Regions from separate parts of the Homo sapiens genome. Here region 1 is linked to region 2. Evidence: fine-mapped expression QTL. A gene starts in region 2. The other region holds a variant in brackets. All regions are shown on one strand. Distances are between the middles of the regions. Region 1 has its middle 29 kb from the start of LINCADL. Region 2 holds the start of LINCADL (lincRNA adipogenesis and lipogenesis associated).

What was found. PIP is the estimated chance that this variant, and not a neighbour inherited with it, causes the effect. A credible set is the group of variants that fine-mapping cannot tell apart.
Region 1: its variant is the best candidate, but not a certain one, in a credible set for the expression of LINCADL in visceral fat (GTEx, PIP 0.58).

Annotation. Positions count from the first base shown.
Region 1 is chr5:115,924,778-115,930,166 of GRCh38, forward strand. No RefSeq gene overlaps it. Among named protein-coding and RNA genes, the nearest start is that of LINCADL, 29 kb to the right of the region's middle. RefSeq lists an enhancer at 5,176-5,389. The variant C/T (reference allele first, on the strand shown) is at 2,008.
Region 2 is chr5:115,953,811-115,959,199 of GRCh38, forward strand. LINCADL (lincRNA adipogenesis and lipogenesis associated) reads left to right here and starts at 2,761. Exons shown (of 2, transcript NR_157226.1): 1 at 2,761-3,110; 2 at 4,619-4,791.

The DNA of each region.
Region 1 (5,389 bases), 29 kb before region 2:
CCCATAGTAGAAAATTATAGACCATTTGAAAAACAATTCCTTGGGTGCTACTGCGCCCTGGTTGACACAAGTGATCATGCTTCCAGAACTGACCTGAGATCTGTCCAGCCCACAAAATCATAAGGCTAGGCAGACCCAGCAAAGATCTCTGCTAAGATGGAAGTGGTGTACATGGGAAAGAATGGGGCCAGAGTGCACACGTTAGCTGCACAAGTCCTGGCCCCAGTTTCGTTTTCCACTGTTGACCAATGCCTTTCCCTCAGCTCCTGGGTAAGACAATGGTGAGGAGAAACGCTTCCAATGGGCAGAACATTTGAGTTGTGCACATGGGCATCCACTGGGTATGAAAGTAAAAGTGGCCCAAGGTAAGAGTACTTATGGAAGCATAGGCAATAGCTAATGGCTTGGCTGGTTAGTTAATGGATCAGAAGATCAGGAACAAGGAGGTTTGGATAGGAGGCATGTGGGTGAATCTATGGGAATAAGCATGAAAATACAATCTTTCTTTTTGTTTGGTATCTGAAAAGTCTGAATCGTATGTTACCTGACAGAGAGCATCTATCACAAAGAGGTGCTTACACAATCAAATAGACAGAAAGACTCACTAGAATGTCACTCTGCCTCTGTTATTGGCCACTGCAGTGTTGGCACAATAGGAACTTGAGTAGAGAAGCCATAGTGACAGGGATGGAGGCTGCACATGGTCCTAACAGCAGGGGCTTCTGCTCACCAAGGCTGATTGAGCTACTGCTTGTGTCAAATATCCCATCTACCAGTAACAGAGAGCAAGGCTCAGCCCCTGATTCAGCACCTTCGCTTGAGGAAACCAGCCACTTGGTGGCAAGTAACTTTGGATGCCTTCCATCTTGAATAGGGAGCAAATTAATTCTGACTGGAATTGATACATATTCTGGATATGAACTTTCCTTTCCTGGCTGCATGGCCTCAGCCAACAACACTATCCAAGGACCTACAAAGGGTTTGATCCACCTACCTAGGATCCTACATAACCTCACAAAGGACCAAGGAATTCACTTTACAACAAAGGAGGTACAGCAGTGAATACAGATCAATGAGACTGATTGACTGGTCTTGTCACAAGCCCCGAAACCTAGAAGCTGCTAGATTGATAGAGTAATGAAATGGCCTTTTAAAGGGACACCTGAACACCAGCTTGGAGATGATACCTTGTGAAGAGGGACATATTCTATAGGATGTAACATATACCCTAATTATAACAAATATATGGTGCTGTGTCTCCAGTAGGTAGACTCCGTAAGTCGAGGCATCAAGAGGTAAAAGTAGGAGCGGCCCCACTTCTCCCAGTGATCCACTTGGGAAATTTGTGCTTCTGGTCCTCACAAGTCTAGGATCTATGGGTATAGAAGTCTTGGTTCCCAAAAAGGAAATGCTGCTTTCAAGCAGAACGAGAGTCACATTAGCTTTTAGTCTGCAGCTGCCTTCTAGTCCTTCTGGCTCCTCAAATCAGGAGACCAGTAGGCAAAGAAAGGAGTTTGCATCCACCGTTACTCCACAGCTCATTGAAGTCTGACCAAAAGAGTGTCTTTCAGAGTACCATAAATAGTAGCTATAATGGCTCATCTAGTGGAAATCACAGCCATTTTGGAGACAGATTTCATTAGGACTCTGCTACTACTGACAATACAGCTCACTCAGTGAGATGCCAAAACCAAAACATTTAACATACTCTGCCTCCTCACACTATATATATATATAGCCTATCAAGTTACCCACTGCATATATATATATATATATATATATATCCTATTATATACTAGGTAACTTGCCTGTGTAAGATCACAGGATTTGGGAAATATAATTTCTATGTTATAACTAGCTTCTATAATAGATTGCTTAGTAAAATGAATAGGATTGGGAAAAAGATAAAAAGGAACTTACTGATGGCTGGGTGTGGTGTCTCAGGCCTGTAATCCCAGCACTTTGGGAGGTCGAGGCAGGTGGATCATGAGGTCAGGAGATCGAGAC[C/T]ATTCTGGCCAACATGGTGAAACCCTGTCTCTACTAAAAAATGCAAAAAATTAGCTGGGCGTGGTGGTGGGCGCCTGTAGTCCCAGCTACTCAGGAGGCTGAGGCAGGGGAATCACTTGAACCCAGGAGGTGGAGGTTGCAGTGAGCAGAGATCGCGCCACTGCATTCCAGCCTGGCAACACTGCAAGACTCCGTCTCAAAAAAAATAAATAAATAAAAAGAAAATAAAAAGAAACTCACTGATATCCAACGTTTCAACCATCCACACCTTAACAAGTCCCTTTACTTTGAGCCCATCATAAAATAAACCATTGTCAGTGTTTGAAAGAATTCCATGTCCTGCATATCCGAGGGTGATTAATTACATGGCTTCTAGAGTCAAAACACGATTTCCAAACCTAGTTTGGTCTTTTAATTAAACCAAATAATCTCTGTAAGTCTGTTTTCTCATCTGTAAATAGGAATGCCAGTGGTACTTACCTCATAGAACTATTGTGATGATTACATGCCATATAGAGTGCTTAGCATGTGCCAAACACAAAGAAGTTCAGCATTTCATAAAATTGTGGCTTTTTTTTTTTTTAACTTACATGCCTTTGCCTCAGCAGTAAGACCATACAAATACAGAAGGAACAAGTCACTGGTTAGTAAATAGTTTTTCACTTTCAAGTGTTTGTTCCTTGGAACGTGCTCATCTGGAACCTTCTCTCTCTGATACCGTTCTTAACTACTCAAGCTCCCGAATTTTGGTGTGCTAAGACCTTTCCTCACCACTACGCCAGTCTCTCTTAGGGTTGGGGAGAGACTGCATATTGCAGCACAGAAATTAAGATCAGAGTATTTTCCACAGTGAAGCTGTTTTAGTTTGAAGGGGCAGAGGTTCTAATTTTTACATTTAAAACTCCCTTTGTAGTTTACCTTCCACTTCCTGGAGTTTATTTTTATAGGTACTTTTCATGTTCCAATGAAACCAGAAGAGATACTATACACAAACCTAAAAAACCTTTATTCTAGAATTATTAACAATACATATTCATGTTTTTCAAAGACCTCTCCCCCCAATATGGAGGCTAAAATAGATTATTTTCATATTCCATCCTTTGACACTAACCGCCACCACCACTCTATCCCTACCCCCACTCCAATGAGCTGGCCCTGTGAATGTGGCCTGGGCCTCCCAGAAAGTTGTCCCATGTTGGCTTTAATTAGATATTATTTCCCATACATGTGGTATATTTTATGCTAGTTATTTGTAGAAACAACAGACGCTGGTTACTGACTATTCCTTCTACCTTTAAGCTGCTTTCTAGTGCCCTACAATGGACCACATAGGATTAGAGACACTGGTAAAATTATTTTTTGCACAAAAAGAGCTTCTAAACAGCTTTATAATGTGGAAGTCATTATCTTTTCAGTTTTCACTGGACCAGTACTACCTATGCCCTGTTCAAATGATCTTTAAATGTACTTTAAATGTGATTGCAGTAAAATCTACCAAACTAAAATGCATGTTTAGATGACAGAAATTAGCTACCCTGTAGTTCTGGAGATTTGAAACAATTTGCAGATTTGCTTGTTTAGTAGTCTGGCAGTGGCAACCTGGAATAGGCCACCGTGTGCCAAGATGATCTTTTGCACATATCCACAATCACCACTTTCAGATTCACTATATAATACACTCTTTTTAATGCAGCCATCACTTATCAAAAGCCTAATTCATAAGAGCTTGTGATGTTTTACACCAGGTAGGAGAGGCATAGTTTTGGAGCACAGGGAGGACACAGCTGGGGAAGGATTTCAAAAGAGATTGAACTGCTGGACACAACTGACTGAGAGAAGATCCAGCCAGAGCAGGATCTTTCAACCTCTGCACTTACATTTTGGGCTGGATAATTCATCGTTGTTGGGGGGGTGTCCTGTGCATTGCAGGATGATTAGCAGCAGCATCCCTGGTTTCTACCCACTAGATGCCAACAACAGCCCCCCCTCCAAGTCGTAACAGCAAAAATATCTCCAGACACTGCCCAACATTATTATGACACCTATGAGTCAGGGTGCATCAGGTAATCGGAATGAGTCAGGGTGGAGCAGGTAATCGGAATGAGTCAGGGTGGAGCAGGTAATCGGAATGAGTCAGGGTGCATCAGGTAATCGGAATGAGTCAGGGTGCATCAGGTAATCGGAATGAGTCAGGGTGGAGCAGGTAATCGGAATGAGTCAGGGTGCATCAGGTAATCGGAATGAGTCAGGGTGGAGCAGGTAATCGGAATGAGTCAGGGTGGAGCAGGTAATCGGAATGAGTCAGGGTGGAGCAGGTAATCGGAATGAATCAGGGTGGAGCAGGTAATTGGGAATGAGTCAGGGTGCAGCAGGTAATTGGAATGAGTCTGGGTTGCAAAGCCAACCTCAGTTGAGAACTACTGACAGAGAGAATTCAGAGTTCTAGGGAAACACTTGGTATATAGTCTGTACTTTGTTAGGGCCCTGATGGCAGTGGCACCAACTATGAACTACTAAGAGGCATTTATCATATGCTGTCAAGAGGCTGACATTTAAAGCCCCTTTCAGTTGGATCCCAGTCTACACTTCTCAGAGTCTACTCTCTTCCTTGAATGCCAGTGTTAGATACTGATTAAGGGATTATGCAATCTATTTAGTGGGTCCTAACCAATATTTTTTAAAAAATGAAATAATGGAATAGAATAAAATAATACAGAAAATATCAATACATTTTGTGGAATAATACTGATTTGCAAGATTTTTTATTCTGTGTGTGTGCACAGCTGTATGTTTAGTCATATTGTTACCAGAAAGGAGTCCCGATCCAGACCCCAAGAGAGGGTTCTTGGATCTCGTGCAAGAATGAATTCAGGGCTAGTCCGTGGTGCAAAGTGAAAGAAAGTTTATTAAGAAAGTAAAGGAATAAAAGAATGGCTACTCTATAGACAAAGCAGCCCCGGGAGCTGCTGGTTGTCCATTTTTATGGTTATTTGGGGTGGATTATTCATGCCTCCCCTTTTTAAACCATATAGGGTAACTTCCTGATGTTGCCATGGCATTTGTAAACTGTCATGGTGCTGGTGGGAATGTAGCAGTGAGGAAGAGCAGAAGTCACTCTCGTTGCCATTTTGGTTTTGGGGGGTTTTGGCTGGCTCTTTTACTGTGTTATAAAGTTTCAGTGCCACAAAAGAAATAGTACTCGAAAATAAATGTTTGTTTTTAATTCTCAGCAAGGCAAGGTACTTCTATAGAAGGGTGCACCCTTACAGATGGAGCAACGATGAGCGCACACTTGGACAAGGGAGGGGAAGGGGTTCTTATCCCTGACGCACGTGGCCCCCGTTGTTGTGTCTTTCTGCTATTGGCCAGGGTTAGACCGTGC
Region 2 (5,389 bases):
TTTTACATTTCCCCAGCTGCTACTATTTATTCTTCAGGCTTTGGTGTTTTAGGGATTTATGTCCCTCTTATTAAGGCCATGGGATACAACATTTGTGTTTCATAACCCCTTTGGTAATATAGAATGCTTTAAACTGCTCCATCAGATTAACTGTGTGATACAAAACCAATATAGAATGCTGCCGTTATGAGAAAGTGGAACTGATAGTGTAACTGGAGATGGAGATTGGCTGAGGCAGAGCCTGGAATCAGGTAACTTCAAGGAAAAAGGAAGCCAGTCAAAGAAGGTCAATAAGAATAATGAAACTTGAAGATATCGAAAAATTTCCTTTCTTTTTTAATAAATATATTCTGCACATTTTAAATGTTTCTTTTTGCTTCATTTAAATGCCATTTTCAAACATTAGTGAATAAACAGAAAGATTCTTAAGATTAGTGAATAAACAGAAAGATTCTAAACATCACACATGCTGAGTGATGGAAGTAGCATGGACTTCAGGCAGGGCTCAGAGACCTGGGTTTAAATGCTGACTCTGCCTGTTATCAGCTCTGTATTTTTAAGCAAATTGCTGAAGCTCATTGAGCCCCAGTTTCCATTCTTGTTCAATGGAGATAAAAACAAAGGCCTGTAGAACTGTTTTAAGGAGTAAATGAAATGCATATACATTAAAGTGCTTGCTAGAGTGAGTGGCACATAAGAGCTCCACATGAGATAGCAATATATATGCTCTTCTGCTACATACATTGGTAGAACCAGCACATTGGTTACAATTTGTCAAGCTGATCACCAGCCTCTTTTTCCATGATTAATGAAGTGGGCACGATAGATTTAGCATTTCTTCTGCAAAGAAAGGAAGAAAGTTAAAAGATTAGGTAGAAACGCTTCTGTAACAAAGAACATTTTTAAGAACATATTTTTCTAGTTTATAATGTTCATGGCACTATAGAAGTGTCCAAACATCTCTTATGTAGCAATTGATGCAATTGCACCTTTCGAGCAGAACTGCAGACTAAGTAGATCAAGTAAAGTGGAGCTGCCTAGTTTGTAGGGACTTTATGACCTCAATATAGTTGTAACAATTATAATTCTTGCTAATTCAAGCCTGTGTGAACACTTAGAAAAGCTAACCTGAGTCCTAGGAAGAAAAAAAATGTATGAAGCAGTGGTGTTGTGCTGAAAATAAAAACAGTGGGGTAAAATTAGCCATATATATATATGGGTATATATATAAATATACATGCTTTAATAACCCGTGATATAAATCAACAATCAGCCTTATGAGTTATAAAGCCATTGGATAATAATTGGAAAATGGATTACATAATCACAGCCAAAAAGCACGGGAAATCATAGACCTTTTGATTTTATCTTCGAAGATAGATTTAATTTGGATTTAAACATTTTAATTATATGCATTAATCTTATCTTCTCCAGTCCTCTAGTTTTTGAAAGTGATTCTTGGCCTTAGTAATAACATTCTTGAAGCTGAATCTATGCTAGTAGATATAACTTCCATGGTAATAAATAGAGTTGGAACAAAGAGGAGAAAGTGGACTGTCAAAACTTGTTCATTGAATTTGTAACTTTTTCCATTAAACAATAACTTGTAGTTTATCAGGTATTCCCAGGAAAAATGAACTGCTCTACCTAAATAAATTTTGTAGGCAAGAACCCTACCCCACCTCCAATTTTTTATGTTAACTATTTCTGTGAGAAAATCTTACATTTTTCATTCTCCTAAAACAGGGTAGGCAGAATATAACCAAATACCTCTGTTGATTTTGTCCTGGACAACTCAGGGTAACCTCATTACTACTCAGTGTGCTAGTTTCTACTCCCACTTCTACCTGTTTATAGCCTGCTGCTCCTGGTGAATGATAGTTATAACCTAGGCAGAATTCCAGGATTTCCAGGGGAAGCTAAATAAAGTTCTTAGGACAGTAAGATTAATTTTGTGTATATTGCTGCATTAATAGGTCCTATCTGTGACAATGAGGGAAAAAGGGACTGGAATGGGAGCGGGAAGCCTGGAGTTCTAGATACTACTCTTCCACCAAACAGCTGTGTGATAGGAGCAAGCAACATGATTTCCCCATCCATATCCCTCCTGTGCTCCAAGGTTCTGAAGATATCTTCATAGGACTGCAGTAATGCAAAGTACATAAATTTGTGACATCTTTTGCTCTCATTATTGGGAAGATTTTTTTCTTGCTTTTGGATTTGGGGCTAAGTAAAAGATGTGTTCGCTTAAAGTGAAATCGTAGTTAATTGGAATTCAGGAATCTTATATTCTTTCCCAAATTTTATAAAAGACTAATTAGGCATATACTATGCCAAGCAGTGTAACAGGAACAGTAAATAAAGTGATGAATAGGACAGCCCTTATCTTTGCCTTCATGGAGTAAACAGTCCTGTTGATAAGATGGGCCTCGAAATTAGCAATCCTATATCAGGAGAAAAGTTAAGAGGCTTCTGCAGGGCACGAAGTCAGGGGTGATGTTAGCGTGGCAGGGGAGTGTGTTGAGGCACTGAGGGGAGAGAATATTAAAGAGATATCTTGGAGGTAAAACTGATAAACTTGGCAATTGATTCCATGTGAGGAGTGAAGAAGAGGGAGGAAACATGGCTAACTCCCAACTTTCTGGCTTGAGCAACTGGGGGTGGGAAGGGAGATACCATTTCCCAAGAAAGAAAATATTGGAGGAATTGGAAGAGCAGCAGATATTGCGGGGTGAAAGGTTGAGAGAAAGAACTGAGTCCAGTTCAGACCGAGGAGCCTGTGACACAGTCAACACCAATGCCAAGGAGCCAGTGGATACAGGGGTTGAGGTTGCAGACATAAACACAGGATTCATCAGCATATGTGTGGTTTCTGAACCTATGGGACAGGATGGCATCACTCAGGGAAAGAGCACAGAGTCAGAAGAAAATATGACCCAAGACCAGGCCTTGAAGAACTCCGATATTTAATGTTTGGGTAGAAGAAAAGGCAAACGAAAGTATCTGAAAAGATGGGCCAGAGAAGAGAGAATCAACCAAGGGGAGATGGTCCCAGAAGTCAAACAGAAGGGAGTGATTCGCTGTGATGAATGCTGCAGAGGCCAAATAAGGTGGGAACTTTGGCTTTAGACATGTGGACATTAGAGTGATCTTAGACTGAGAAGTTTTAAGAGATGATAGGGTTGGAATTTCATTGGGAATAATTTGAAGAGTAACAGGGGAGAAAATAGAGACAACAAAAGCACATACTCTTTAAAGAAGTTTTGCTATACAGGAGATAGAATAATGGATGGGCAGGCATAGGAGATCAAGGAAGCATCTTTTTAAAAACTACAGACGTCAGCATGTTTAAACAAGAAGAGAGAGTGTGACAGAGAGGGAGAGGAAAGAAAGTTGGAGTAAGAGTGAGAAAGAGTAAGATTAATAGATAGCAAAATATAGCTGGGCGAGGTGGCTCATGCCTGTAATCTCAGCACTTTGGGAGGCCGGGCGGGGGGAAAATGTTTCACGAGGTCAGGAGTTCGAGACCACCCTGGCCAACATGGTGAAACCCCGTCTGTACTAAAAATACAAAAATTAGCCGAGTGTGGTGGCTCATGCCTGTAATCTCAGCTACTTGGCTGGCTGAGACAGGAGAAGAATCCCTTGAACCTAGGGAGGCAGAGGTTGTAGTGAGCCAAGATCGTGCCACTGCACTCTAGCCTGGGTGACAGAGAGAGACTCCGTCTCAAAAAAGAAGAAGAAGAAAAAAAGCATAAGATATCCAAGAAAATTAGAGAGAATAAGATTCAGAACCTAAGTGAGTGAACTGACCTTGGACAAGAAGCACATGTTATTTGTTGTGTCCAGAGAGAAGAAAAGATGGGTGTGGATGAAGATAGGTCTGGTATGGAAAGTTGAAGTGGTTCCCAATTACTGACTTCTGTGTGCTCTGTGAAGTAGGAGGCAAGGGGGAAGGAGGAGGAAATTATAAGTGAGGAAGGTGGTGAAGGTGTGAAAATAGTGGCAGATAGTGAAAAAGCAAGACATTAGAGAAAAGTGGTAGGACTGGAGGCACAGCAGGGGCTGGTCACTGGTCATTATGAATCCATGGCGTTACCAGCCTGCCTTCTGGACTTATGGGTTTGAAACTGCAACTGGACTTACTAGTAATTTCACCTTTTGATACTGCCTTTGCAAAAATTATAACAGTGGGAAAATTATGACAGTGAAAGCGATCTGACCTAACCAACTCCATCTTGCTTCTAACCTCCAATCTGTCCTTGTTTATTCCAGAGCATAGGCCAAACTAGCTTTGAGAGAAACTTAGTTTATAGGTTAACATTGAAACAAAGATGATAATAACTCCCTCATGAAATAAACCTCCTTCTTACCTAGAGAGCACACTGTCTTTGTAAGACTAACAAATTAGCCATAATACAAGAAATTCTGGTTTAGGGAGTCATGGAGCTAGAGGCCATAAGATTCTGAACCTCCCCAGTTGCTCCTAGGCATAACATCACTATTGTAACATCTAAAATTGGTGCTTGAGATGTTTTTTGGACCCTGAGTTCTGATATACCAGCTGGTGCCACCCAGACTGATAATCTGGCCTAACCAGTTTTGCAATCCCACCCAGGAAAAGAAGACAGCAAGAAGAAGCCACTTTGAGCCCCTATGATTTCATCTTTGATCCACTCATCCAGCACTCCATACTCCTTGATCCCTACCCACCAAATTCTCCTTAAAAGCCCTGGTCTCCAAATGTTCAAGGCGACCGATTTGAGTAATAAAACTCTAGTCTCCCATTTAGCTGGCTGTCTGTGAATTAAATTCTTTCTCTATAGCAGTTCTCCTGTCTTGATACATTAGCTGTATCTGGGCAGTGGGCAAGGCGAACCCGTTGGGCCATTTCACTATAACGTCTTTCTAGAAAAGATTTCTCTCACAGACATCAGTAGCTCAAGCTGGTGACACAGCATGGCCATTTGTGCAAATAAAGGCTCTTCTTTCTTTGCACATTGGATGTCTCTCTGACCTCCAGTGCTCGCCTGTACTCTCTTTCTCTTGCTATACCATATCCTTTGCCTTTAAGTAAATGCCTATATGAATATACTCTGTGGAATCTGGTGAATCCATGCAAATAACCAAACTGGGGAAGTCTTTGCAATGGTGTAACTATACAATATAATACTATACAGCTGCAGAAAAGTATGTGAAATGTATCTGTGGACTGATATGAAAAGATATCTAGAATATATTGTTAAATGAAAATGCAGGTGAGGAACTGCAATATAGTATACTGTTTTTCTTGTACAAAAGAGAGAAATACAAGGGCATATAATTGTATTCACTTGATTTGCATGAGGAAACACTGGAAGGTTACACACACAAAAAACTATTTAAAATG